7 linked regions of the Homo sapiens genome follow. The protein of the gene in region 6 purifies or fractionates together with the protein of the main gene of each other region. This does not show direct contact. Each region holds a gene or a part of one and is shown on either strand. Other genes may lie near its edges. The genes, in order: SCCPDH, MYO5B, SLC25A16, ACSL3, RAB40C, PPP6R2 and PDGFRL.

What was found.
Region 1: the proteins of PPP6R2 (region 6) and SCCPDH purify together in Homo sapiens (affinity purification with mass spectrometry; 2 studies listed by BioGRID and IntAct, with this or other methods). This does not show direct contact.
Region 2: the proteins of PPP6R2 (region 6) and MYO5B purify together in Homo sapiens (affinity purification with mass spectrometry; 2 studies listed by BioGRID and IntAct, with this or other methods). This does not show direct contact.
Region 3: the proteins of PPP6R2 (region 6) and SLC25A16 purify together in Homo sapiens (affinity purification with mass spectrometry; 2 studies listed by BioGRID and IntAct, with this or other methods). This does not show direct contact.
Region 4: the proteins of PPP6R2 (region 6) and ACSL3 purify together in Homo sapiens (affinity purification with mass spectrometry; one large-scale study listed by BioGRID and IntAct). This does not show direct contact.
Region 5: the proteins of PPP6R2 (region 6) and RAB40C purify together in Homo sapiens (affinity purification with western blotting; one study listed by BioGRID). This does not show direct contact.
Region 7: the proteins of PPP6R2 (region 6) and PDGFRL purify together in Homo sapiens (co-immunoprecipitation; one large-scale study listed by IntAct). This does not show direct contact.

What each region holds. Positions count from the first base shown.
Region 1 is NC_000001.11:246,730,617-246,734,776, forward strand, and holds part of SCCPDH (saccharopine dehydrogenase-like oxidoreductase), read left to right. Parts: intron 1-4,160.
Region 2 is NC_000018.10:49,834,655-49,838,814, reverse strand, and holds part of MYO5B (unconventional myosin-Vb), read left to right. Parts: intron 1-1,012; coding exon 1,013-1,298; intron 1,299-1,929; coding exon 1,930-2,104; intron 2,105-3,390; coding exon 3,391-3,471; intron 3,472-4,160. UniProt on the Homo sapiens protein: May be involved in vesicular trafficking via its association with the CART complex. The CART complex is necessary for efficient transferrin receptor recycling but not for EGFR degradation.
Region 3 is NC_000010.11:68,482,524-68,486,023, reverse strand, and holds part of SLC25A16 (solute carrier family 25 member 16), read left to right. Parts: intron 1-2,407; coding exon of another isoform or gene 2,408-2,435; coding exon 2,436-2,592; 3' UTR 2,593-3,500. UniProt on the Homo sapiens protein: May be involved in the transport of coenzyme A in the mitochondrial matrix. Very little is known about the physiological function of this carrier.
Region 4 is NC_000002.12:222,863,797-222,867,956, forward strand, and holds part of ACSL3 (fatty acid CoA ligase Acsl3), read left to right. Parts: intron 1-4,160. UniProt on the Homo sapiens protein: Acyl-CoA synthetases (ACSL) activates long-chain fatty acids for both synthesis of cellular lipids, and degradation via beta-oxidation.
Region 5 is NC_000016.10:620,611-624,770, forward strand, and holds part of RAB40C (ras-related protein Rab-40C), read left to right. Parts: intron 1-4,160. UniProt on the Homo sapiens protein: RAB40C small GTPase acts as substrate-recognition component of the ECS(RAB40C) E3 ubiquitin ligase complex which mediates the ubiquitination and subsequent proteasomal degradation of target proteins.
Region 6 is NC_000022.11:50,433,593-50,437,752, reverse strand, and holds part of PPP6R2 (serine/threonine-protein phosphatase 6 regulatory subunit 2), read right to left. Parts: intron 2,788-4,160; coding exon 2,672-2,787; intron 1,387-2,671; coding exon 1,301-1,386; intron 766-1,300; coding exon 685-765; intron 248-684; coding exon 150-247; intron 1-149. UniProt on the Homo sapiens protein: Regulatory subunit of protein phosphatase 6 (PP6). May function as a scaffolding PP6 subunit. Involved in the PP6-mediated dephosphorylation of NFKBIE opposing its degradation in response to TNF-alpha.
Region 7 is NC_000008.11:17,621,861-17,626,020, reverse strand, and holds part of PDGFRL (platelet-derived growth factor receptor-like protein precursor), read right to left. Parts: intron 1-4,160.

The sequences.
Region 1 (4,160 bases), on a different chromosome or scaffold from region 6:
GTCAGTCCATATAGTAACCGTTAACGGAACGTCATGTTTTTGTAAACATTAACATGGATAAAAGTTCTGATATTTACTTCCACCCTCAGTGGATCATTCTGCGCTTCCCTTAGGGGAAGACTACTTGGGAGACCACTGGGTTAGAAGATGGAACTTTGAGGGCCAGGCGCGGTGGGTCATGCCTGGAATCCCAAACCTCTGGGAGGCTGAGGTGGGCAGATCACTTGAGGTCGGGAGTTTGAGACCAGCCTGGCCAACATGGTGAAACCCTGTCTCTACTAAAAATACAAAAAATTAGCTGGGCATGGTGGTACACACTTGTAATTGCAGCTACTCGGGAGGCTGACGCAAGAGAATCACTTGAATCCGGGAGGCGGAGGTTACAGTGAGCTGAGATTGCGCCATTGTATTCAAGCCTGGGCAGCAAGAATGAAACTCCAGCTCAAAAAGAAAAAAGAAGAAGATGAGACATGGAGAGCAGGATTGCGGTTCTGACCTTTGAGCCAATTGGCCTCACAGGGGAGAAGTGTCTCCCCGAGATGAAGGATTGCTACTCTGACTGTTCACCTGTCTCAGACAAGCACAGGGTACTAAGTGGAGAAAAATCTAGCAAGTTCATAAAATAGGAATAAGTTAGTGAGAAGTCTCAACTCCAGATTACTCAAAGAAGTGGGCCAGATGTGACAAAATGCAGTAAAAGTAAGGAATGGGCAGACTGGCAAATAGGAAAATGCGTTTTCTTTCCAGAAGGAGCTACGATTATTTTAATAAGCTCATTAATACTTCACTGCAGCCTGCCAGTACTCATAGATACACTGCCTAGCTGATGGGCTCACTAGCCAGACATGAGAAGTGAGCCTGTGGCTGTAAGGCAGAGCCTGGAGGAGCTGGGAGTTGGCCCAGCAGAATGAAGGGAGGGTGCTCCAGGTAGTGGAAGCAAGCACACTGGGTGTGAAGAAGCAGCATGCTTGGGGAATTACATGGAATTTAGAACTGCTGGAACATGAGAATTAAGGGGCTGTGGTATGATATGATACTAAGGACTTTCTGTGACATGCTAAGAAATTTGGACTTTGTACTATATACTGTAGGGATTTTTTTGTTTTTGTTATTTTTATTTAAGTTCTAGGGTACATGTGCACAACATGCAGGCTCGTTACATAGGTATACATGTGCCATGCTGGCCTGCTGCACCCATCAACCCGTCATTTACATTAGGTATTTCTCTCAATGCTATCCCTACCCCTGCCCCCCACCCCACGACAGGCCCCAGTGTATGATGTTCCCCACCCTGTGTCCAAGTGTTCTCATTGTTCAGTTCCCACCTGTGAGTGAGATCATGCGGTATTTGGTTTTCTGTCCTTGTGATAGTTTGCTCAGAATGATGGTTTCCAGCTTCATCCATGTCCCTGCAAAGGACATGAACTCATCCTTTTTTATGCCTGTATAGTATTCCATGGTGTATATGTGCCACGTTTTCTTAATCCAGTCTATCAGATTTGAAGAGTGGATATGTTATAGGAGTGAGGCAGGAGGAAAGGTGACATCACATTTTTATTTTAGAATAACAATTTGTTATGTATTTGGAGATGGGGCTAGCTGGCTGCAGTATAACCAGTTAGGGCCTATTTATAGTAAATTAGATGAGTGTTGACAGGGTCTGAACTAAGATATAATTGTGCAGGGGAGAGGAGACTGATTTGAGATAATTTTAGGAAACTGAATTGATAAAACTTGGTGACTTCCAGGATAGGTAGCATGAAAGACTGCTTCCAGATTTTTTTTTTTTTGAGGCGGTTCTTGCTCTGTCACCCAGGCGGAAATGCAGTGGTGCGATCTAGGCTCACTGCAACCTCCACCTCCCGGGTTCAAGCAATTCTCCTGTCTCAGCCTCCTGAGTAGCTGGAACTACAGGCTCATGCCGCCACACCTAGCTAATTTTTATATTTTTAGTCGAGACAGGGTTTTACCAAATTGGTCAGGCTAGTCTTGAACTCCTGACCTCAGGTGATCCACCTGCCTCGGCCTCCCAAAGTGCTGGGATTACAGGCATGAGCCACCACACCCAGCCTGCTTCCAGGTTTTAACCTGAGAATTATGTGGGGAGTAATGCCATTAAATAAAAAAAAGAAGCCATCTGAGTACCATGTGCCTGGCCCCACACTAAGCTCTTTGTATTCTCTTATTTCATCCTCACAACTACCCAGGGAAGTGAGTGTTGTTATTCATCACCATTCTTTGATTGAAGAGGTTGATGCTTAGAGAGGTAAAGTGACTTGCCCAGGGTCACACAGCTAGTGGCTGCAGAGCCTGGATGTAAGTGTGGCCTGACTTAAAGCCCACACTCTAGACCACTCTGCTGTTCAGCCATTTGCTCAGTTTTGTCTCAGAGTCTTCCCTCTTTTGAGCACAACAGAAAGATGTTAGAAGTGGGACCCAGGCAGGCTGAACTAGAGGCTATACTTTGTTTTTTATTTTTATTTTTTTGAGATGGGGGTCTCACTTTGTTGCCCAGGCTGGAGTAGAGTGGCACGAACACAGCTCACTGCTGCCTCAACCTCCTGGGCTCAAGGGATCTTCCAGCCTCAGCCCTGAAAGTAGCTGGGACTATAGACTGGTGCTATCACATCTGGCTAATTTTTGTATTTTTTGTAGAGACAGGGTTTTGCCCTGTTGCCCAGGCTGGTCTCTAGCTCTTGAGCTCAAGTGATTCACTCACCTTGGCCTCCCAAAGTGTTGGGATTACAGACGTGAGCCACTGTGCCTGGCCATGTGTTTATATATATATGCCATATATATATAGTCCTTATATGTATAATATATATATATAATAAGTATATGGCCTCTATATATAGTCCGTAGCATCATATTTTATACACACACACACACACACACACTTTTTTTCTTAGAGAAATGGGGTCTCAAAGCGATCCTTCTGCCTCAGCCTCCCAAAGTGCTGAGATTACAGGTTTGAGCCACCACACCTGGCCTAGAGGCTACACATTGAAGCACGTGCTAGGAAGTGGAGGAGGAGAAATAGGTTTAGAGAGAGAGATGATGAATTCGGTTTTAGACTTGTTGAAATTGAGGTGTCTGCTAGATACCTTGCATCAAGACAGAAAATACAAATAATATACTGTTTGTATATGATGTTTTATAAGTAAGTGAGAAAATCAGGGGGAAGAGAAAATAAAAGGAAAATGTAGGCAAAGTGAAATTAGTTTTATGTGTGACTCATGCTACATGTCCTGTGCTCTCACTGGTCCTGACCTTTCTAACAAAAAACAGAGGGAAATCCTATCAGTGAGCAACTCTAGACATAGAGGTTGGAGGTCACAGCACAGATTTTATTGAAGTTGGGAGAGTAGGTGAGATTTCCTGGGAGAATGTCTGGGGCAGTGATTCTCCATCTTTGAAGTACACAAGAATCACCTGTGAGGCTTATTTACAATGCAAGTTACTGGAGTCTACCTCAGAAAGCCTGATTCTGGGGGTCTGGAGTGGGAGTGAGTGACCAGCATGCAACCCAGGTGATTCTAAAGCAGGTGGACTCATGGCCAACTTGAGAAATTTGGGGGTGAAATAACTTAAGAACAAGGCCGAGAAAGCTCCAAATGAGTTTTAAAATGGATGTGTGCAAACCCTAAGGATCAACCAGGATAATCCACTGGGTGCAGAAAGCATATGGAGCTTCAACTTCTGTTTTAATCTCAACTTTAGTTCTATTTAAATATGTTTAAAATGTGTGTTTTATTCATTTGGTAGGCAATTTAAGTGATTTATAAGTAAATTCATATAGTTAGTAGGTGATGGATTCCAGGTGTGAACTTGGGTCTTACTGCCTTGAAATCCTTTGTTCCATGATACCATACTGCCTCAGAAGTAGAGTTCTTCATTAATTTCATGTGGTTTGTTAATGGGAGGGTAGGAACTCGAATTTCACACACTTCTCCCAGTCCTGTAATTCCAGTGTTATCCGCCATTCTTAGTAAGAGGTGTGAGGTCTTGGAGTTAGGTAAGAGGGCAGCCCATCTGACCTATTTGTAAAGGTCGATTGTGTCTTTTAAGTGTCCCTTGTTCCTCAAAGGCTGGAAGAAAGAAACGATTTCCTTGTTCCATCTTTTGCTGCCAGGAATGAATAAAGCAGAGGAGTTTGTGCT
Region 2 (4,160 bases), on a different chromosome or scaffold from region 6:
TATTATGAACTTGATTCATGGAAAAAAGCAGGAGTGTTCATGCGAAAGGACACAGCAGTCGGCACGATGCATCAGTATTTATTAGACACTTGCTTTGAACCAAGCAGTGTACTTGGGCACTGAACATGAAATCAGAATTGAGAAATGAGAGCAGTTACATTTTCAATCGGAAGAAAAATTATGTGTAGATGCATTACTCACTGTGCTCTGCAAAGGCTGGGAAGGAAAGTGTACCTGGACCTATTCATAATGCTTTCCCCAGGTTCTTACAACACAAGTAGGTTATGAGTGAATCCCAAGAAGGACCAATCTAGAAATACATTACTTGAAATGAGGTTCATTCCAAACCCTCCTTCCTGTCTGGAAATCTTTTTATAAGGCACCAGACAGAGGGAGAACTGACATATCAAGCTGGAGATACTCAGAATAATGTGAAGGTTAATAGCAGCAGTTCTGGAGTCAGACAGACTTGGGTTTAAATCCTGGCCCTGCCACTCCCTATCAGTGTGACCTCAGACAAGTTATTTAACCGCTTTATACCTCAACTTCCTCATAAAAATGGGTAGTACTTTATAGAGTTGTTGGAAGATTGAAAGAGATACTGAACATAAAGCCCCTGGTGCATAGGTAATGGCTGCTTAGTAAGTATGACGGACCAATGAAGCTCTTATTTACATAGTCAGTGGCTGGACGAGGATGACACCCAGGTTGCTCAATTCTCAAACTGTGGACTTCAGCACAGGCGATACCAAATCGAGCTGGTACATGCCCATCATCTTTGTCTAATTGCCAGTAAATTAAATGAAAATGCTGTCCACAGCTGTTTTATTCCATACAGAAATCAACACATTAGAAATTTTTTGCCAAATGTTATAAGTTCCTAAGCATGTCAACATTGCACACCTCTGGATGGTATCATTGCTAAAGCCCGGAGCACTAAATGATTTGAGTGGTCCAATCTTTGCATTGTTAGTGGGGAATGCAAGCTTCTCTAACTGTGCTTTTATTTCAGTTTCTGCCATGTTGGAAAATGAGAGCATTCAGGGTCTATCTGGTGTGAAGCCCACCGGCTACCGGAAGCGCTCCTCCAGCATGGCAGATGGGGATAACTCATACTGCCTGGAAGCTATCATCCGCCAGATGAATGCCTTTCATACAGTCATGTGTGACCAGGGCTTGGACCCTGAGATCATCCTGCAGGTATTCAAACAGCTCTTCTACATGATCAACGCAGTGACTCTTAACAACCTGCTCTTGCGGAAGGACGTCTGCTCTTGGAGCACAGGCATGCAACTCAGGTAAGGGAGGAGCACCCCCCAACAACACAGATAGAGTGGGCCCTCACTGACTGCAGCTAGAATCAGAACACAAGACTGCTGTTTCTAAAAATGAAATCCAAATCTAATTGACAGTCCTTGTCTCCATCAGTCTGTGACTCAAATCCATCACCTTTTTACCTGTTGGTGAAATCCGTCGAACACTGAGATGGTTGACTTGGTAAACAAATTAGTTCAAAGCTTAAAGATGTTGACATACTCTAAGTTAAAGACTGAATACAAAGCAGATAGGTCAGAGAGAAAACTCAATGAGTTAAGAGGCATGAAGGCTCACATAGAAGTATAAATACATTTGTGAATGTTAAATATAAATACTTACAATTCAGTATATTTAATGCCTGTTTTTCCCTGTTAACTTATGTAGACACTTCAGGTATTTCATCTTTGCTTGATTTTAAGTACCCACTCATTCATTTATTCATTCTTTATTCAACAAATAGTTCCTGAGTGCAAGGCACTTGCCATGCTTTTTAACCGTGTGAGATAAATAATGGCACTAGCTGCAGCGGGCCTGCAAAACACAACAGGTGTCCCCTTCTCAGTGAATTAGGAGGACCGGCTTAACATAGCTTGCTTTCTACCTATGGCTAAGGTACAATATAAGTCAGCTTGAGGAGTGGCTTCGGGGAAGAAACCTTCACCAGAGTGGAGCAGTTCAGACCATGGAACCTCTGATCCAAGCAGCCCAGCTCCTGCAATTAAAGAAGAAAACCCAGGAGGACGCAGAGGCTATCTGCTCCCTGTGTACCTCCCTCAGCACCCAGCAGGTACAGTCACTTTGCACCTCTGTCAACATGGTATTCCAAGGAAGCCCTGAGTCCATTCCAAGTCTGTTCTCGTTGGTGGTTATTTGTTAGTGTTGCACTCCCACCCTTTATATACCCCTAATGAGACAATTTTGAAGTGCAGCTGATGGGATATTCCTAGATGAACCAAAAACCATTTGGTCTGTGAAACAAGATGCCACAGATACTGTTTTCTAGTAACTCTCTATCCCTCTTACTCACTTAAAAAGATAAGGTAGCAAACTCACAAAACGTTAAGTTTAGGTAAAAACTTCTTTAAATATAATGAATTCTGGAATGTTTCTTACATAGAAATCCACAAATTTTCAGAAATTGGCAGCATCAGGTATTTGCTTTCTTTACAAATATAACTGTAAGAAAAACCTTTTCTTTAAAACTAATTGCAATATGGTCATATTTTCACTCACACTCATTTATATTGTTTTAAATGAAGTCATTAAGAACTTAGGGGCATTTAAGTGTTACTTTCCTTTTCCCTAAAAAATGTATAACCATGATTCAGTTGCCGACACATTGCCAGTCCCTGAAAGATAAATAACAAAATCCAAACTCAGTACAGAAAAACACATCTTAATATAGCAAAGTGAACACCTTTCCTTACCTCCTCTGCTTACTATTAAAATATTAAATATCTAACTCTTTAAAAAACTGCTTCCTTCTGTAAACATTTCCAGAAAGTCTTCAAACATTTTTCTTCTCTTTAAATACATTTCACTTAAAGTAAGTTTCCTTCTAGATGCAGCTGGCATTGCATTTGGGCAGTCTACTTCCACCAAACCAGTGGTAGGCAGACAAAAGAGTATCTCCTGTTCAAATACTCATTTGTAAACAATGTTGGGGGACAGGGGGTAGTTAGGTATTAAACAAGACCTTTCTCATCTAAGGTAAGATCTCCAGTACTCTTCAGAAGAAACCTTTAAATTACTAGTAGATATGAGGCTGAGGATTTCAGGCAACTGCATTCTAAACTCCTCATTGTGTATACCAATGAGCATAGTGGGGAGGGGCAGGTGGGTTTACAGGAGACATGAGTTCGGTGAGAGGGCTCAGATCCACCTGACAAAGCTGTGGGCTCTAGTTTCCTGGATGCAGGCTCCAAGTGTAAATGTCAGTCCAGCTCCATCTGTGTTGTGGGCCTTGTCTAAAGAGGATCATACTCTTGTACCAATGTCACATATTCTTTAAAGTTCAAAAGTTGTCTCATGTTCATTTAGCTCTGTGCTAAATTCCGTTTTTATCCCCAACAGATTGTCAAAATTTTAAACCTTTATACTCCCCTGAATGAATTTGAAGAACGGGTAACAGTGGCCTTTATACGAACAATCCAGGTGAGTTTTAAGATAGTAATTTTATAAAGTCCAGTCTACGACTATAAAGGAAATTAAAAATTTGGGCTTTAATCTTGCTTCTCTTTATTACTAAAATACTGGTTACATATATGCTGGGAGACCTTACATTCCTAGACTTTCTACTTAGGTAAACATGAACCGTATCACCCATGAGTAACTTACTGTTTACACACAGAAAACTCAACTTTTATCATCTCTGCCTCTCAGATTATAGACATAGTTTAAGCATTATGTCATTTGCCACTAGCATGTTACTGAACTATTAGCACCAAATGGAATTAACAATGTCAGCAGAATATCAGCCCTAACCATAAATGGAACTAAGAAATGTTCTTTAAAGAAAGCAATTTGAGCTCTTAAATCTTTGTCTAAGACTTATAATATAGGCCAGGTGCGGTGGCTCACTCCTGTAATCCCAGCACTTTGGGAGGCCGAGGTGGGTGGATCACGAGGTCAGGAGATCAAGACCATCCTGGCTAACACGGTGAAACCCGGTCTCTACTAAAAATACAAAAAATTAGCCGGGCGTGGTGGTGGGCGCCTGTAGTCCCAGCTACTCGGGAGGCTGAGGCAGGAGAATGGCGTGAACCTGGGAGGCGGAGCTTGCAGTGAGCCGAGATTGCGCCACTGAACTCCAGCCTGGGCGACAGAGTGAGACTCTTGTCTCA
Region 3 (3,500 bases), on a different chromosome or scaffold from region 6:
CTGGTCTGGTACTCCTGGCTAACATGGTGAAATCCCGTCTCTAGTAAAAATACAAAAAATTAGCCGGGTGTGGTGGCAGGCACCTGTAGTCCCAGCTACTCGGGAGGCTGAGGCAGGAGAATCGTGTGAACCCAGGAGGCGGAGCTTGCAGTGAGCCGAGATCGCACCACTGCACTCCAGCCTGGGCGATAGAGTGAGACTCCATCTCAAAAAAAAAAAAAAAAATATTGCTTAGGAGGCTGAGGCACGATAATTGCTTGAACCCAGGAGGCAAAGAGCTGAGATGGCGCCACTGTACTCCAGCCTAGGTGACAGAGTGAGACTCTGAAAAAAACAAAAAAGGCCTGTCGCAGTGGCTCACGCCTATAATCCCAGCACTTTGGGAGGCAGAGGTGGGTGGATCATGAGGTCAGGAGTTCAAGACCAACCTGGCCAAGATGGTGAAACCTGTCTCTACTAAAAATACAAAAAAAATTAGCTGGGCTGGTGGCAGGTGCCTGTCATACCAGCTACTCAGGAGGCTGAGGCAGGGAATTGCTTGAACCTGGGAGGCGGAGGTTGCAGTTAGCCAAGATCATGCCACTGCACTCCAGCCTGGGCGACAGAGCGAGACTCTGTCTAAAAAAGAAAAAGGGCTGGGACGCGGTGGCTCACACCTGTAATCCCAGCACTTTGGGAGGCTGACGCGGGAGGATCACAAGGTCAGGAGATCAAGACCATCCTGGTCAACATGGTGAAACCCCATCTCTACTAAAAATACAAAAAAATTAGCTGGGTGTGGCGGTGTGCGCCTGTAGTCCCAGATACTCTGGAAGCTGAGGCACAAGAATCACTTGAGCCCAGGAGACGGAGGTTGCAGTGAGCCGAGATCGTGCTACTGCACTCCAGCCTGGCAGCGAGGCTGCGTGTCAATAAAAAAGAAAAGAAAAAGAAGAAAAAATATATATATAATTGTTAAAAATATTTTTTGTTTAACCTAAACTTTTATCACCTCAACATTTCATTATTTTGTTTCTTTTTTTTAAATACAAACTATTTGAAATCCAGGGTGTATTTTACACTCACAGCACGTCTTGATTTGGACTGCCACATTTCAAGTGCTTAATAGCCATATGTGGCTAGTGGCTGCTGTGATTGTATAGCACAGCTCCAGAGTTTTCTTTATAGTAATTTAGAACCATTCCATTTGATTGGTGATATGTTGTCTCTCAGGGGAAGAGCAGAACATTTGTTCATGAATTTGGATTGCCGTGTTCACCCAAAAGATTTTTTGGGCTGGGAGCATTACCCTGTGCTTGTTGTATCCAGCTACTTGAGAGGCTGAGGTGGGAGGTTCACTTGAGGCCAGGAGTTTGAGATCAGCTTGGAAAACATTGTAAGACCTTGGCTCTAAAAAAATTTTTTTTAACTAAAAACAAACAAACAAAAAATTTAGTGAGGCATGGTGGTGTGTGCCTGTAGTCTCAGCTACTGAAGAGGCTGAGGTGGGAGGATTGCTTGTGCCCAGGAGTTGGAGGCTGTTGTGAGCTATGATTGCCACTGCACTCCAGCCTAGGCAACAGAGTGAGAACCTGTCTCTTAAAAAAAAAAAAAAAAAAAGATTTTTGAAAAGATTTCGGTCCAGATTGCCTATTGAAAGGGAAAGCCCAAGCCCAAATTATTGGTTTGAAAGGAAAGGAACAACTCTGAAACAGGAAAGTGTTCATTGCTGAAATCTGAAAGATAGTCCTTCAAGCTTTAGTTCTATAACCACCTGCTGTTGATACTATACAACTTGAGCTATAATAAAGGCTTAAAGGGCAACTGGATATACATCCTTTAAAAGGATTGCATTAGTATTTCAAATATAAGTATGAAATAGTTGTTGTCCAGTAAATGTCATAGACATAGTACAAACAAAATATGTTGTACTAATGAGTCCTGAAATTTGATGCATAATGCTTGTACTTGTTTAGAATGACTTGCCTTTTTATTATGAAAAAATTTTCACTTGTTAAAACATTTGTCTTTCTAAAGCTATTCAAGATGGCATTTAACCTTCTTTAAAAATTAATATTATGGGCCGAGCGAGGTGGCTTATGTCTGTAATCCCAGCACTTTGGGAGGCCAAGGTGGGTGGATCACCTGAGGTCAGGAGTTTGAGACTGGCCTGGGCAACATGGAGAAACCCCGTCTCTACTAAAAATTACAAAAATTAGCTGGGCATGGTGGCGCGTGCCTGTAATCCCAGCTACTCAGGAGACTGAAGCAGGAGAATCACTTGAACCTGGGAGGCAGAGGCTGCAGTGAGCCAAGATCATGCCACTGCAATCCACACTCCCATCTGGGTGACAGAGCAAGAGTCCATCTCAAAAAAACAAAATTGATATTATGGATCCTGAAATTGTTTCTTCATGAGTGGGCATAGAGGTCATCATTTAATCATTGTCTTTCAGTACCATGCGGGATACTATGAAGTATGTCTATGGACACCATGGAATTCGAAAAGGACTCTATCGTGGTTTATCTCTTAATTACATTCGCTGTATTCCCTCTCAAGCAGTGGCTTTTACAACATACGAACTTATGAAGCAGTTTTTTCACCTCAACTAAAAAAAAATTATGGTTGGTTTTTCTTAATACATTCTCAGAGGGAGAAATGAAACATTACTATAATTGTGGGGGGAACATTACTTGAATGGGGATATTTACCCTGTCACAAGAGCCACTGGTATTTTAGTACTTGATTATTTTTTCTTTAGTCACAAATCAGAACTGCTTACCATACTTTTTGATGCCAAACATTATACCTTAGAACATTGAAGAAAATATTCCTAAGCTGATGCTGGCTAAACCGCTTTAAAGTTTTATTTGGAAGTAGAACTAGCTTTAAAACGGGGTTCAAGAGGTTGCCATTAGCTTTGTCATGCTGTTCAAAGTTTTTAATTGTTATCATGGTTTTTAAAAGACTGACAGTGTTTATTATTATTAAAATAAACAGGGTTGGTTATATTGCAATAGAATAATGAGAATTGAATTTTTAAGTTCTATGAAACAGCCAGCATTGACATTTTATTTTTGTTATCTCTCTTCTCACAATTATGCTCCACTGGATAATAGGAAAAACACTTCTTTCCTTCATTTTTTAAATAAAATTAATGTTGTATTTAAAAGGTAGCCATGTAGAGACACAAAAATAAATGAAGAAGCTGGACATGGTGGGATGGGCATGTGGTCCCAGCTACTCTGGAAGCTGAGGTGAGAGGATCACTTGAGCCCTGGAATTCCATGCCAGCCTATGCAACATCATGAAACCCCACTTAATAAATGAATGAACGACTAAGTCTTGCTCAAATGTTATTATGAGGTACTATGAGTGACTTACATGTGTTTTAAAATGTCAGTGTGTTTCCCAGAGGCAGAAATAAAAATACTGAATATCTTTGCTCTTAAAAAAAAAGTAACACTATAGATTTGTTTTTGTTAGATGATTTGCTCTATAGTAGAATATTTAAGTAGAC
Region 4 (4,160 bases), on a different chromosome or scaffold from region 6:
GTTGAACATGTATGAAGCCAATTCAAATAATACATTGCAATATATTTACTTAATGGCCATCTGCATGCAAAACACCGTCCTAGGGGTACCATGTGGCATAAATAAAAAAGATGAACTTGCCAAAGTTACTGCTTTCAAAGAGATTTCAGTTAATGTATACTAATACTCAAATTTAAGGTTTTTTTTTTTCAAAGTGCTAGCATATCTCATCTGATCCTTTTAAGAGCCATATATGATAAACAGAAATACTGAGAAAATGGAGATAAAAAATTGTCAGGATATGGTGATAAATAGTAAATGGAGTGGGAGAAAGAGGTGCTAAGTGATTACTAGGTTTCAGACCTATGCAACTAAAGAGGTATGTGTGCTATTCACTGAGCTGGGGCTTAACTGGTAGAGAACTAGGTTCTGGATATGGGAAGGGCATGACTTTAGTTTTGGAAGTGTTCAGCTGGAGCTGCCTTTGAGGCCTTTATTGAGGTACTGGTTTTGTGCTGAGAATTGGGGTGGCCATTTACCGTTTTGAAGACCTCCATGTAGAGGCAAGAGCTCAAACCATGGGTATGGGTGAGATTGCCTGTGGGGAGGCTATAGAATAAGAAGAGAAGGAGGCCTGGGATGGAGCTGGGCAGAGGAGGTTGAGCTTGTCAAGGAGACAAGAGTGGCCAGGAAGGTCAGAGGACAGCCAGAAACAGATGTTCCTGCAAGGCGATGAGTCAGTACTGTGGAATGCTCCTATGAGAGAAGAATTGAGAACCATCATTGAATTTAGCAACATGGAGGTCACTGGTGACCTTTGAAAGAGATGCTGATCTGCAGGTAGGGGTGGGATGGGGAGCAGTGGGAGGTGAGGAAAACGGAGACAGAAACTGTTTCCAATAGGTTTGATTTCAGCATGTTTAAATGCTGATGGGAAGGCTCAGTGGAGAGGGAGTGGTTGAATATAGACTAGAAAAGGGTTTGTGCAGAGTTCCTAAAAGGATGGGGTTGGGATGGGACCCAAAGTACAACTGAGGCCTGTGTCTTTGCTGGGAGGAGGGGACACCTTCCACAGTAACAGAATACAGGCCTGTAACCTATGGAGTACTAAGCAAATGCCAAAAATTGTCAAGAACTGTTAAATTTCTAAAAATTAGCCCAATTTTAGTTGACTCATGACAGTCTTTTAGAAAACTTTGTTGCAAGAGCATTGTGTGATTGATTTAAAATGTGGCTCAGTCTTAATTTCATCCCTCAATAGAGTATATATTTTCATCTGACTTTTGATTGTAATTTATTTATTTTCTGAAAAAGGAGACATTGTAAATGTTAAATCCTGTGGTGCCTTCCTTACATGTTTATTTTTGGTTTCATTAGAAAAAAGCTTTCAGACGGTTTCTGTTTTCCTGACATCATAGGTGCCTTAATTCTTTTAATTTAAAGTTTAGCTTCTGTTATTATTGGAATATGTTTATTTACGTATTTTTGATGTTTCCCATTTTGAAGGGTAAAGAATTGGATGATTCAGTAGTTTCAACTGATCTGCTAATTTTTGTTTAGAATTGAAGATACTTAAATAACCAACCTTTTGGATAAGTGGCCTCCAAATACAGCTTTCTGCTTGTTTGTGAAGGTATTTGTTATTAAGGATTCATTCATTCATGTATTTACTTAGTGTCTGTTTTGCAAGGTACTCGGAATTTGGAAATGATTGGGCGAGTTCCTGCTCTTAAGGAGCTCACAGTTCACCACAGGAAAGAGGTGTATGAACAAATTACAGCATGGTGGAACAGAAGAAGGTATATGAGCAAATATATTACAGGATGGTATAATCAGTGCAGCAGTGGAATCTGCTAGGAAATAGAGAAAAAGTGCAGAGCAGGCACAGAGTAGGGAAGGAAAAGGGGAGACTTCTCAGTGGAGATGATAGCTGAACTAGGTTTTCCAAGATGAACTGGAGTTTTCCCAGGTCAACAGGGAGCCAGGAAATAGAATGTTTTACCTTGATTTTGGATCCTCTGTGTGTGTGTGTGTGTGTGTGTGTGTGTGTACACAGATGTGTACGCATTGGAGATGTTATAACGCTACCAAAGAATATTGTTAGAAAAATTAAAAATTGCTTATCTTACTATCCTCATGTTGATTGCTCTAGCTGTGAAAAGCTGCACATTTTCCCCTGTCCTGTCATGGTCAACTTTTCTGTCTCCTATTTGATGCAGAAAGTAACTGAACTTAATTATATTATTTGGATACAAAGCCTAGTTTTTGTTTTTCTAAATGAATGGTCTTTGGAATAAGGATAATAGCCAACACCTTTATAGTATACTGTGGCCAAATGCTGTTCTAATTTTTATCTCAGCCTTGCAAAATAGGTACTTTTTTTTTTTTGAGACGGAGTCTCGCTCTGTCCCCCTGGCTGGAGTGCAGTGGCATGATCTCGGCTCACTGTAAGCTCCGCTTCCCGGGTTCACGCCATTCTCCTGCCTCAGCCTCCTGAGTAGCTGGGACTACAGGTGCCCACCACCATGCCCGGCTAATTTTTTGTATTTTCGGTAGAGATGGGGTTTCACCATGTTAGTCAGGATGGTCTTGATCTTCTGACCTTGTGATCCGCCCGCCTCGCCCTCCCAAAGTACTGGGATTACAGGCTGGGAGCTACTGCGCTGACTGCAAAATAGGTTCTTTTATCATTCTAATTTTTACAGCTGAGGAAACTGAAGCACAGAGCAATTTAAGTGACTTGCACGATTGTGTGCTAAATGTGTGCTGGATTTCATCCCAGGCACTTTGGTTCCAGAGTCCCTGTTCTTAACCTGGGCGCTGCATCTCCTCTCTGGAGTGACAGTTTGAAGTTCATGTTAACCTTTGAAGGCATGATTGTGTAGGGAAAGGAGCTGTGATGACATTTAGGGGCAGTTTTATGTCTGTTTTAATTACACAAAGTTGCTGCCCCAAATAAAACTGCCCTGCCCCCCCCGCCCCCCCCCCCCCCCCCCCCCCCCGCCCCGGGGAAATCATAAGGAAATTGAGAGAATTTAACTAGAATTTTCTTTTTTTTCTTTTTCTTTTTTTTTTTTGAGACAGAGTCTTGCTCTGTCACCTATGCTGGAGTGCAGTGGTGTGATCTCTGCTCACTGCAACCTCCGCCTCCCGGGTTCAAGCAATTCTCCTGCCGCAGCCTCCCGAGGAGCTGGAATTACAAGTACCCACCACCACACTCGGCTAATTTTTGTATTTTTGGTAGAGATGGGGTTTCACCATGTTGGCCAGGCTGGTCTCTAACTCCTGACCTCGTGATCTGCCCATCTCAGCCTCCCAAAGTACTGGGATTGCAGATGTGAACCACCATGCCCGGCCTAGAATTTTCTTTTTGGACTTGAACATAATTCCTCAGGATGCTTTCCCCTTTAACCTTACTTCGCAGGAATTGTTATTGACTTTTTAGATTGGAATATAAAGGAATTTGGGATCCCATAGTCTGCTAATTCCATTTTCTTTTCCTGTCTTTTAACTAAAATATTGACGCACTTTCTGTATGTTTGAAAAATATTTCATAAAATTTAATCCACTTAAAGAAACCCACTCCTTTCCCCCAAATCTTACAGCTAACCACTGCTCTGAATTTGGTGTTTATTATTCCTATGTATTTCTGTACAGCTTTATTACACATGTGTGTTTCCTTAGACAGTGTATAGTATTGTTTTGTGTATTCTTAAACTTTATATAGATGGTACTGCATGTATTCTTGTTCAGCATACTGTTTATTTTATCCCCACTCAAAATCACTTAGCAGTGTGGTTTCATGAATTGAGTTTCAACTCAATTCATCAGTGTGGGTTCATGTAGATTTAGGTCATTTATTTTTACTGTGACAAGTTAGTACATTTTAGGTCTATACCATATTTATTTCCCCTTTGCTCTCTTGATAGACTTTTAGGCTGTTTCCATTTTTTTTGTTATTACAAACATTATTACCGTTAAGTATTATTGAACACAAGTCTTTGTTTTAATTTTTGACACTGTAGTTAACCTGTGCTCCTTTTTCTCTGTTCTTCACATTTTTGTCTCGGCCTTCCTCTAATCGTTTCATTATTTGAGCTAAGGTACCATTCTTTGTCCATTATACTTAACAGTACAAAACTGTAATGGGCACTTTTCCTCGAAGGCTCTTTTTAGTAATC
Region 5 (4,160 bases), on a different chromosome or scaffold from region 6:
CATCCCAGCCCCCCCCGACGGGCTCCACCGCGGGCATCCCAGCCCCCCCCCGACGGGCTCCACCGCGGGCATCCCAGCCCCCCCCGATGGGCTCCACCGCGGGCATCCCAGCCCCCCGCCGACGGGCTCCACCGCGGGCATCCCAGCCCCCCGCCGACGGGCTCCACCGCGGGCATCCCAGCCCCCCGCCGACGGGCTCCACCGCGGGCATCCCAGCCACCCCCCCCGACGGGCTCCACCGCAGGCATCCCAGCTCCCACACAGGGAGGTCTGTGGGACACGAGGCCAGTACAGTCGTGATTTCTGTTCAGCTGCATGAGAACTAAAAAAGAAAAAAGCAGTTCATAAGCTCTGCATTTGCCAGGCTGAGGTCCTGGAAAGCAAGCTCTGTTATCATCTCCGTGTTCTTTCCAAAGCATCTGGCACAACTGGTTATGTCTTTGTTTTGTCTTGTTAACTCTGGAAATTCTGAGCTGTCATTTTCCACATGCGAGGAGCAGGTTACAGACCCAGGTGCACATGTTGGTCCTGGGTTGAGGGTGCCAGGTGCTTCCTTGCCCCGGGAGAAGCACCTGAGTCTCCAGGCGGGCCTCTGACCGCCGTGACTGAGCATTTGGGCCACCCCGGGAGCCCAGCCCTGTCCTGTGTCTCTCCTGCCTGGTGAGCAGCGGTGAGGTGCGGGTGCATCCAGCCGAGGTGCAGAGCCCAGGTTTGCAGCAGGGTTTCTCCCGCCGCCCCTGATGAGACACAGACTAGCAAGGACTGTCTGTCCCAGCCGGGATTTGTCACTCTGCCTCCCTCCGTTAGAGAGTGGAGAGGCCTGGAAGGTCCCCGCGGCCTGGGTCTTGCAGATGGCACCAGCAAAGGCCACCGGCCACTCCCCGCTGCCGTCACCTGTCACACAGCAGCAGTCCCGCGGCTCTTCCCGCGAGGCCCTTCACGTGCCGCCGAAGGCCGGGCTCCCTAGACTTCATGGTCGTGTTTGCATATTCTGTTGCTGTGATCTGAGACGGCCCCTCTCAGAAGCGGGTGCCACAACCCGCTGGTGGGATGAGTGGGTCACCCAGGTGCAGGTCCCTTGGTGTGTGGAGGGTGGGGTAGGCTCCTTGTAACTGCAGTGTGGCTGACGGGATGTGCCATCCTGTTTAGCTGAGAATTTGGGGTCAGCGGGCTTAGTGCCAGGAAGGCTGTGGCCAAGTGCCATGTCTGCTTCAGGACAAAGGTGTGGATTTGTTTCCCTGAGAGGGGGTTTATGTGGAGCGTGGTACGGGAGGCACACGTGCTGCTGGCTTGTCGGCACACAGGTGGGCGGGTGGATGTGAGTGGGCGCGGCTTGGCAGTAGCTCCCATTTTACATGTCAGTTGCTCCTGGGCAGAGCCTGGGTGCAGGGATGCAGGAGGAGGGCTTCACTCTCGCTGGCTGTACCTTGGGAGCTTCAGCCACATGGGTGGAAGGGGCATGTGTTTGTCAAAATTCATCAAAATGTTCAAACCTCGGATCTTTGTATTTTGTGCTTTGTAAGTTACAGCTCAGTAAAAAATGATAGCAAAAAGGACACCCACTCTTAGGCCCAGCAGTTCTACTTCTGGGAATTTATCGTGTAGGTCGAGTTGATCAAAAAAAGGTGTAAACGTGCTCAGATGCATATTGCCACCGTTACCCAAGAGCTGGCGCAGTACCAGTTCACGAGCAGGCGGGGGTGCTGGGCCTGAGCTCAGGGCGTGCGGGTGGGAGCAGCGCCAAGTGCCTCCACCCCCTTGACCCCGCCCGCGAGGCATGAGCGGCACCGTGGACACGTCTGTAGACGCTGAGGAAACTGACTGTCAGGGCGGCTCCTAGAGGGGCCTAGAGCAGGGCGAGCGCGCGTCCTGACTCATCCCCTAGAGCACTCGCTCGTTCTTTTGTTTTGTTTTTTGAGACACGGTCTGGCTCTGTCGCCAGGCTGGAGTGCCGTGGCGCGATCTCGGCTCACTGCAACCTCCGCCTCCCGGGTTCACGCCATTCTCCTGCCTCAGGCTCCCGAGTAGCTAGAACTAGGTGTGCACCACCGCGTCCAGCTAATTTTTGTATTTTTAGTAGAGACGGGGTTTCACCATGTTGGCCAGGATGGTCTCCATCTCTTGACCTCGTGATCCGCCTGCCTCGGCCTCCCAAAGTGCTGGGATCGCAGGCGTGAGCCACGGCGCCTGGCCGAAGTCGCTAGTTTTTTAAAAATCAGATCAGTTTTAGAAAACAGAAGGCAGTGGAAGAGTCTGTTTGTCCCGTGCTCTGCCCCTTGAGACACGCAGCTGAGGGTGCTTAGGGTGCCGTTCGTTAGGCGGCTGCTGGTCACCGAGAGTCTCCTTTTGGTTTCTCACTCCGTGGTCATTTGGGTCCCTGCGGCCTCACTGTGACCCACGCCGGAGCAAGCCTCCGGGTCCTCCTGTGCCATCGCCCCTGCCCGTAACCCCTACTCCTCAGACATGGCCATCCCAGGAAGTGGGGGCCCGCTCAGGGCAGCAGCCGGGAGGTGTGGCCAGGGCCCCCCGCGTCACAGCACACTTGGAGCCTGAGGCAGCCCATCAGCCGGGAGGCGGGCCTTCTGCTCTCTTTCTAGAGTTTTCAGTGTCATGCGAATAGGGGTGTTTGCCACAGAAAACAGGTCAGCATCAAAAGTTACCCCTCTCCAGCCTTTTAGCATTTGTTTTATGTCCATATAAACTTCTTCAGTGTAATGTGTTGTGTGTTCATACTTTTATTTTTTAAAAATCATGCTGGGCCGGGCGCGGTGGCTCACGCCTGTCATCCCAGCACTTTGGGAGGCCGAGGTGGGCAGATCGGGAGGTCAGGAGATCAAGACCATCCTGGCTAACACGGTGAAACCCTGTCTCTACTAAAAAAAAATACAAAAAAATTAGCCGGGCATGGTGGCGGGCGCCTGTAGTCCCAGCTACTCAGGAGACTGAGGCAGGAGAATGGCGTGAACCCGGAAGCGGAGATCGTGCGGCTGCACTCCAGCCTGGGCGACAGAGTGAGACTCCGTCTCAAAAAAAAAAAAAAAAGAAATCATGCTGGGCTGGGCACAGTGGCTCACACCTCTGATCCCAGCACTTTAGGAAGTTGAGGCAGGAGGATCACTTGAGGCCAGGGGTTCAAGACCAGCCTGGGCAACATAGCAAGATCCCATCTCTAAAAAATGTTTAAAAAAACTTAGCCAGATGTGGTGGTTCACACCTGTATTCCCAGCCACTCAGGAAGCTGAGGCTCAGAATATCAGGCTGCAGTGAGCCATGATCGTGCCACTGCATGAACCCCAGCCTGGCTGACAGAGTGAGACCCTGTTTCAAAAAAAAAGAAAATGCCATCCGCAGTGCTGGGACCTGCGTTCTTACCTCACCTGGGTTGCACATCTCTCCTTGGCCAGCATGCACGCTTTTACATGCACTGCTGCTGTCTTCAGCATCTGCACGGTACATTTCACTGCCGCTTACTCAGCTGTCCCCTGAGGCTGGACATTTAATTTGTGTCTGGCTTGTCGTTGTTATCAGCGCCACTGTGACACACATCCTCAGTTACTTCTGAGTTGTGGGCTTGCCATGCGGGAGGTTGCCATGCGGGAGGTTGCCACTAGGGAGAGTGGGCTGTGTTGTACGCTTTGGTGGCCCACTCCCCAGTCTCTCCACCTCCCCCAGCAGCAAATGAGCCAGCCCCAGTCCCTGTGCCCCAACCTCCAGGGTTAACCCCTGGGTGTGCATTTGTTTATTCTGAATCTTATCATTTATCGCCCACCAGACTGACTTGGCCATCTCTGGCCTCGAAGGGTCTCCCTCAGCGAGAGGTGTCCTTCCTGAGCTGTCGCTCCATCCTGAGCAAGGCCTTCGCCCTGGGAGCTTAGTAATGTCAACCTTGTTCTAAACAGGACCTGGGGCTACACTTCAGTCTTCCAGATATCGAAAGATGGTTCTAAGAGGCTCTAAAAACCCTAATTTTCAGATGGACAGTGCCCTCTTCTTTCAGCCTCAGCCTCTTGTGTGATAGGCTCTTCCATTACGTGAAGGTTTTGTCAGCCTAGGAGTAGGGTGGATCACAGCTCATTGGCTGGATCTGGTTGCAGAATTGTAGGGTGGGAGTGGACGTTGGGGAGAGGCGGGCATAGGGGAATGGGCCTGTGATGTCACCG
Region 6 (4,160 bases):
CCTCAGCACCCTCACACAACTGGGAACACCTGCTGTCTCCCGGGGACATCAGACGGCACTCCCGGCAAGACCTCAGGGAGCTGCCTCCACGGGAGCTCAGCAGCAGGGAGAGCCGCGCCTCGTGCAGAGTGCGCTCCAAGTAGACTCACTTGATGTTGTCGTCCTGGTCGGCAAACTCCTCATCATTGAAGCCAAACTGATCCACGAAGTTGGCTGTCATCTGCTGGATCTGGTAGTCAGAGAAGGCCTGGGAGGGAGGGAGGGAGGGAGGGACGGACAGACACCGGTCATGGAGGAGGCATCAGGCCTGGAGGCTGCTCTTTGGGAACCACAATCTCTCTAGTTGTTCGGGAGCTTCTCCTCCAGCACAAGTGGGCAGTAAACTCTGTTCAGGGCTCACGATTCTACCAAAACTCAGGCTGCGCGCTCGCTGCGGTCACATCTGAGATACGCCCCATATTCTCTGACTTTCGAGTCCATCTGCCGTGTCCTCAGTGCTCTCATCAAGGTGGAGTGACTTTGGGGTTCTCCCTTCAGACCCACCCCGCCCCATACGTGCTCGGAGACGAGCCCCCGCTCCCCTTTGCTAGTGAGATGCCATCAGACTCGTCTGGAGGACCAAGCGCAGCGCACACAGGTGCCGGGAAGGGCCCGGCAGGGTGCAGGTGCCGGCCACGCCCTCACCTGCTGAAGGGACAGCTCGTTAGGGAAAGCACCCTCAATGTCCTCGTCCTCACTTGAGGAGTGAAGGTGGTGAGTGCTCACCTAAAACACAGGCCAGATGGGGTGGGCGTGTGAGCCAGCCCAGCGCCCCAGACCCCACCCAGCCCAGCGCCCAGGACCATGCCCAGCCCAGGGCTCCCAGACCCCACCCAGCACATCACTCATCAGATCTCTGGGCCCAGGAGGCCGTGCTGTGTAAGGAGGTGCCTAGGTGAGGCCAAGGCCCCGTGACAGCCCGACCTCCATGTGCAGGGGGCAGGTTGTGGGTCTCAGGCAAAAGGAGCCCTCTGCCAACAAGCTACAGCTCCTGGAGTGGGAGGAAAGGGACCTGAGGCCAACACCGGCTCTGCACAGAGGTCCTCAGAGACCCAGCCCTGGGTGTGGCACAGGACGGGGTCTCTGTTACGGACATCAGCCCGGAGGACACACTATGCAGGGGCACCGCATAGTCAAGAGGAGCAGGCAGGCGTGCGGCCCTTGTGCCTCCCTTGGCCTCTGCCTCAGGGCAAAGGCAGGAGCGTCTGACGGCGTCCCAGCACCGTGCGTGCACCGAGGGGGCAGCCCCGAGCCTCCTCACCAGGTCCACAGTGTTCCTGCGGTTCGTCTCCGTCAGCGTCTCCTCCACGAAGCTCTCCCAGCGGCCACGGCAGTCCGCAGGGAGCCCTGCAAGGGAAGTGCTGCCTGGTGAGCCCTGGGAGACCCCGTGCAGATGGTGCAGGGCACCCGGGGGCTCCGGCAGGTGCATCCTGGGTCCGGGAGGATGGGGCGCTGCTACTGTGGTCAGCCCGTCTGAGGGCCTGAAGCAGGGGCTTTGCCGGATGAGAAAGAGGCAGCATAGCCGCGTGTCCGGAGGGGCCTGGGGCCACAGTGAGATTGAGGTGCAGCACCTGTGGGCAGGGTGGTGGGCACTTCTGCCCCTACCGAAACCCCAGTGGGCATCTGAGTTCCAAGTCTGTTGGGTGGAAGCCCATTCTGAGGAACTCCCAGAAACGCAGAAGCCGTGGAACAGAATCTGAGAAAGCAGCCAGCTTCCTTCCCCCCACCTCACAGGCCCAAACTCAGCAGCAGCCTACAGGCCTGGGCGCGTGTCCTGCCTGTTTTTCCGGGGAGGTCAGAGTCCTGGAAGGATTCACAATCTGGAGATCGTATGGAATGATCCAACAGCTTCCTGCTTGCCCCTCGCCTCCTTAAACTGCCCCTGCCCTGGGGAGCTGTCCCTGGCCTCCACCTCCACCCATCTACTTTGCCCTCCAGGATGTGGGGAAGCTCCTCCTGCCCTGCTTTTATTATTTGTGATGGCAGCCGGCAGGCCTGACCTCGCCAGGGGCTAATGGAGCCCAACCCAGGAGTCCCCTCACTATGGTCCTGGGGTGCGGGGAGGACTATCCAGAGCTTCCTCACCTTACACGGGTATAGGGAGGAGAGGCCACAGCTGGGCCCGCCTCTGCCACACATGTGCTGTGCCTGCGCCCACCTAACCCACTGCGTTCTTAAGAAACAGGCTGCAACCTGCTCCCCTGAGACTTGTGCTACGAAATCTCACACCTGAGTGAGAATGAGACTCTCCAATCACCTGAGTGCAGAGCACACAGCCAGGACAGCCTAGCCAGGCAGGGCTCCCTGAGCTGCAAGGAGCCCGGTGGCGCTAACGGCTTCTGAGTGCCAGCTCCGGAGTCACCAACTACCCCGGGAGGGACTGTCTCTTGTGCCACACGCTGACGCCTGGCAGGGTCTCCACAGAAGTCCGCCCAATAGAACTGACACATGAGACCCAGGCCCCCACGAGGAGAGATGTGATGTGTGAAGTGAGAGGACAGAGGTGGCCATGGGTCTCTCACTGTCAGTGCAGTCAGCACCTGCTGCCGGGCAGAGCTTAGTCTCAGGCGGCAGCTCCTTCGGGGTCCCGGTGCCCGCGACCAGCAGAAGGATGACCGGGTTGGGGGCTCACCTCGGATGACCTCGCTGATGTGCGTCTGCACAGGGCCCCGCTCCAGGTTCTGCACCACCGCGTTGGCGATCCGTGTGAGGTGGCCCATGTTCCCACGTCTCATGCCACCCGCTGCCCTGAAAGCAACAGGCACCATCGGGGCGGCCTCCTGGCCCCGACCTTGCCAGACCCACGACCCAGAGAGCCAAGTGGCAGAGGCCTCCAGGTTCACTTCGGAGAGCAAGTGCCCGGCCCCTGCCCAGTGTCCGCGCCCCCGGCCCTCCTCCAGGTTCACCTCCAGAGCAAATGCCCGGCCCCTGCCCAGCATCCATGCCCCCGGCCCTCCTCCAGGTTCACCTCCAGGGCAAGTGCCCGGCCCCTGCCCAGTGTCCGCGCACCCGGCCCTCCTCCAGGTTCACCTCCAGGGCAAGTGCCCGGCCCCTGCCCAGCATCCATGCCCCCGGCCCTCCTCCAGAGCAAATGCCCGGCCCCTGCCCAGCATCCATGCCCCCGGCCCTCCTCCAGGTTCACCTCCAGGGCAAATGCCCGGCCCCTGCCCAGCGTCCGCGCCCCCGGCCCTCCTCCAGGTTCACCTCCAGGGCAAATGCCCGGCCCCTGCCCAGCATCCATCCCCCGGCCCTCCTCCAGGTTCACCTCCAGAGCAAATGCCCGGCCCCTGCCCAGCGTCCGCGCCCCCGGCCCTCCTCCAGGTTCACCTCCAGGGCAAATGCCCGGCCCCTGCCCAGCATCCATGCCCCCGGCCCTCCTCCAGGTTCACCTCCAGAGCAAATGCCCGGCCCCTGCCCAGCATCCATGCCCCCGGCCCTCCTCCAGGTTCACCTCCAGGGCAAGTGCCCGGCCCCTGCCCAGCATCCATGCCCCCAGCCCTCCTCCAGGTTCACCTCCAGAGCAAATGCCCAGCCCCTGCCCAGCGTCTGCGCCCCCGGCCCTCCTCCAGGTTCACCTCCAGAGCAAATGCCCGGCCCCTGCCCAGCATCCATGCCCCCGGCCCTCCTCCAGGTTCACCTCCAGGGCAAATGCCCGGCCCCTGCCCAGCGTCCGCGCCCCCGGCCCTCCTCCAGGTTCACCTCCAGAGCAAATGCCCGGCCCCTGCCCAGCATCCATGCCCCCGGCCCTCCTCCAGGTTCACCTCCAGAGCAAATGCCCGGCCCCTGCCCAGCGTCTGCGCCCCCGGCCCTCCTCCAGGTTCACCTCCAGAGCAAATGCCCGGCCCCTGCCCAGCATCCATGCCCCCGGCCCTCCTCCAGGTTCACCTCCAGGGCAAATGCCCGGCCCCTGCCCAGCATCCATGCCCCCGGCCCTCCTCCAGGTTCACCTCCAGGGCAAATGCCTGGCCCCTGCCCAGCGTCCGCGCCCCCGGCCCTCCTCCAGGTTCACCTCCAGAGCAAATGCCCGGCCCCTGCCCAGCATCCATGCCCCCGGCCCTCCTCCAGGTTCACCTCCAGAGCAAATGCCCGGCCCCTGCCCAGCATCCATGCCCCCGGCCCTC
Region 7 (4,160 bases), on a different chromosome or scaffold from region 6:
AATATCTTCTTGTATTTTTATTTTTTGAGACAGGGTCTCACGCTGTTGCCCAGGCTGGAGTGCAGTGGCACCATCATGACTTACTGCAGTTTCAACCTCCAGGGCTCAAATGATCCTCCCACCTCAGCCTCCTGAGTAGCTGGGACTACAGGCACGTGCCACCATGCCTGTCTAATTTTTTATTTTTTAGTTTTTCTAGAGTCAGGGTCTCACTATGTTGCCCAGGCTGGTCTCAAACTCCTGGACTCAAGCAGTCCTCCTGCCTTGGCCTCCCAAAGTGCTGAGATTACAGGCATGAGCCAATGTTCCCAGCCTTACTTCTTATACTATAATATATACTTTACTTCTTATACTATAATACATACTTTGAAATGTGACCAAACCAGTTGCTTTAAAAATATATTTGCAATCCGTAGCTTCCATCAACAATAACAAAGTGTTGAAGTTTGTTTTAATAATTATAGATTACACATGTCCCCTGCAAATGTATTTATATCCACTTATCTAGAAGACAAATGTTTTACTTAAAGAAAACTAAACACATGGGATTTTAGATTAAAAAAAAAAACTCGACCAGGTGCAGTGGCTCACGCCTGTAATCCCGGCACTTTGGGAGGCCAAGGCAGGCGGATCATGAGGTCAGGAGACCGAGACCCTCCTGGACAACATGGTGAAACCCCATCTCTGCTAAAAATACAAAGATTCGTTGGGCACTGTGGCGCATGCCTGTAATCCCAGCTACTCGGGAGGCTGAGGCAGGAGAATCGCTCGAACCGGGGAGTCGGAGGTTGCAGTGAGCTGAGATGGTGCCACTGCACTCCAATCTGGCAACAGAGGGAGACTCCATCTCAAAAAAGACAAAAAAACAAAAAAATGCGGGGGGGGGAGGGATAGCTTTAGGAGATATACCTAATGCTAAATGACGAGTTAATGGGTGCAGCACACCAGCATGGCACATGTATACATATGTAACTAACCTGCACATTGTGCACATGTACCCTAAAACTTAAAGTATAATAATAATAAATAAAAATAAAAATAAAAAAATAAATAAATGCAAGTTAACAAGCTATAAACTAAATCCAAATTACAACAAATTCAGTATTTTGAGACAGTCTCACTCCGTCACCCAGGCTGGAATGCAGTGGTGCCATCTCGGCTCACTGCAACTTTGACTCGCTGCCTCCTGGGTGTAAGCAATTCTTGTGCCTCAGCCTCCCGAGTAGCTGGAATTACAGGCGTGTGCCACCATGCCCACCTAATTTTTGCATTTTAGTACAGAGGGAGTTTCGCCATGTTGGTTAGGCTGGTCTTGAACTCCTGACCTCAAGTGATCCGCCTGCCTCGGCTTCCCAAAGTGCTAGGGGATTATAGGCATGAGCCACTGCACCCAGCCAGGAAAGTACTTATTAATGTGGTTTTCCTACGTATAAAAATTAGAGCCTCAGCCTTTTACTATGAGAAAGCTCTGCTGCTGGTAATGTTCTCATCCTTGATCTGGGTGGGAGTTACATGTGCCTGTTTGCTTAAGGATAATTTATTGAGCTGTATTCTGAGAATTTGAATGTTTTTCTTTACATATGTTATACTACAATAAGAAGTGAAAGAGAAGCAGGGAAAACCTTCCAAGATCCTCCTGGATCAAGATGAAAGAGGAAATACATACGGCAATTATTTAATCACAAACTGCACACTAACAACAGTCAGTCCCCCAAAAGAAGCTTCAGTGTTTTTAATCAAACTCTAGGAAACATACAAACATAATGAATGACAAACATTTCTCCACATGGGTAGCCAGGAAACACATGTTCTGAAAGAATCCTGAGCCAGCAGTGAGAACCTCAGCTTCTGTAACAGCCCATCTTGGTTTCTCAAAGCCATCCATGCTTGAAAAGACAAATTGCCAAACCCTATAGTAAAAATCCAACTGGACTCCTAGCTTAGTGTTGACAAATAAGAAAAAATAAATGATGTATAACACATTAGGTCAAATGTGTTACAGCATTTATTTTTTTTGATCAAAGTTTCTTGATAGTTGGAATGAATATATTTTAGCTTTTCTTTGGTTCCCAAAATTAGTTCAGTTAAAAAAAAAACAAAAAGGTTCCGCCTCCAAAACTCAAAGAGAGCCCGTATTTTTTTTTTTTGAGGTAAAGTCTTGCTCTGTCGCCCAGGTTGGAGTGCAGTGGCGCAATCTTGACTCACTGCAACCACCAACTCCGAGATTCAGGCGATCCTCCTGCTTCAGCCTCCTGAGCAGCTGGGAGCACAACTGTGCACCACCACGCCCAGCTAACTTTTGTATTTTTGTAGAGATGGGATTTCTCCATGTTGGCCAGGCTGTTCTCGAACTCCTGACCTCAGGTGATCCGCCCGCCGTGGCCTCCCAAAGTGCTGGATTACAGGTATGAGCTACCATGCCTGGCCAAGAGCCCATAATATTAATAGGATATTCTGCCCAAGCTAAGCCTGCAGTTCAAAACCTCGACCAATACTTTGGGAAGACACAACAGTGCTAATCTTGGCAAAGAATCTTCCTTCTGCAACTTGAAATGTGGAATCAGTCATTGACTTGAATAACAGACTTTTATTCATCTTAGTTGGTTGCTTTTTCCACTGTTGCTTCACAGCATGGTATAATACAAAGGGCACATTTACAATCTTGTGTAGCGAGTTCCAAAATGAAGATCCAAAGAGATTGCCTATGAACAATTATTAGCAATTCTCCTGACAACACCAGTTATGCTAGCTAGAATCTGGCTATCAGTCCATCCTTCACCTTGTCCTACAAAAGGTTCAAGGCAGTAAAAACACTGGATCCTGGGTCAGAAAAACAGGTTTGGCTCCTTATTGTGCCACTACAGGTCCTGGAACATTGAGGCTCAGCATGAGCATTAGTACTTCTAGTATTTTGGAGATAATAAAATAGCTTTTGCTTATTTCCCAGGGATGTTGTGGAATGAAACTGATAGAGGCAGGAGGCAGAGAACTCTCCTAAGCAGATACGGGAATGTCCTTAGAGAACCTCTGACCTACCAAGGTCATTGTGCACAGGGGTCTTGCCTAAACATACCCCCAGTGAAAAATTCCATCCCTTAACACACATGCAGTAAGGGAAATAAATCAACGTGGAGTGACTCAGATTAAGGGCCTGCAGGTACACTGAAAGGATGGGGTGGAGCCGCCAGGAATTCACGCCTCTTACAAACAGGGAACCCAGCCCTACCGAGGGAACATAGAAGCCCTTGTATTCAATTGTGTGGAGAGCAACCTGCAACCTGCTTTCAGGACCCCTCTTTTTGCTGAGAGCTTTCCTTTTCGCATAATAAATTCTACTCCACGCACTCTTTTAAGTGTCTGTGTGCCTAAGTTTTCCTGGCATGAGACAAGAACTTGGATCTCTGAACTAAGGAGTAAAAAGTCTGCATCAAAATGAGATACATGTGCTTCCAGAACTGCAGCATACCCTACTAATGCATCTCCTTGCCAGAGAGGAGCTATTTGGGCAGGAAAGGACAAATACATAAGATTGTACTAAAACATTCTTTAATGGTCAGGGCATAACATCCTTTGGGTCATAGGCCTATGTCTAGGTCTAGGCCTATGTCTAGGTCTACGTCTGAAAGGTAGGTGGATTCAAGGCATGGAGAAATTTCATGAAAGTCCCTGCCCAGGCACTAACAAAGGATTCTGGTTTCACCTGAAATGTCTTGGACGACAATAGGACGAGGGTGGCTTTGTAAGATTCCTGAAAGCTCTTACTGACTTCTGAACCTTGCTGGAGAACTTCATCCCCTAAACTTCAGAACTTAGAGAACATTACAGAAGAAAGAGGCTGAGCAGTTATTCTGCACACGTGTTTCTCAAAATGCAAGCTCCATCTTCCAGAAACATACTTTGCACTGCAGAGAAGAGTTCTCCACTCTGACCTGAACATTTTGAGGCAGTCCACTGAGGCTTAGGGACAGGGACTGGAGACACAACAGCCACAATCTTTGGGAATCTTGCCCCCGAAATCTCAGCTCATAGTATTCACAAGAACAAACAGGGCTGAGCAGAATGGCTCATGCCTGTAACTACAGCAATTTGGGAGACCGAAGCAGGAGGATAGCTTGAGTTCAGGAGTTCGAGACCAGCCTGGGCAACACAGTGAGACCTCA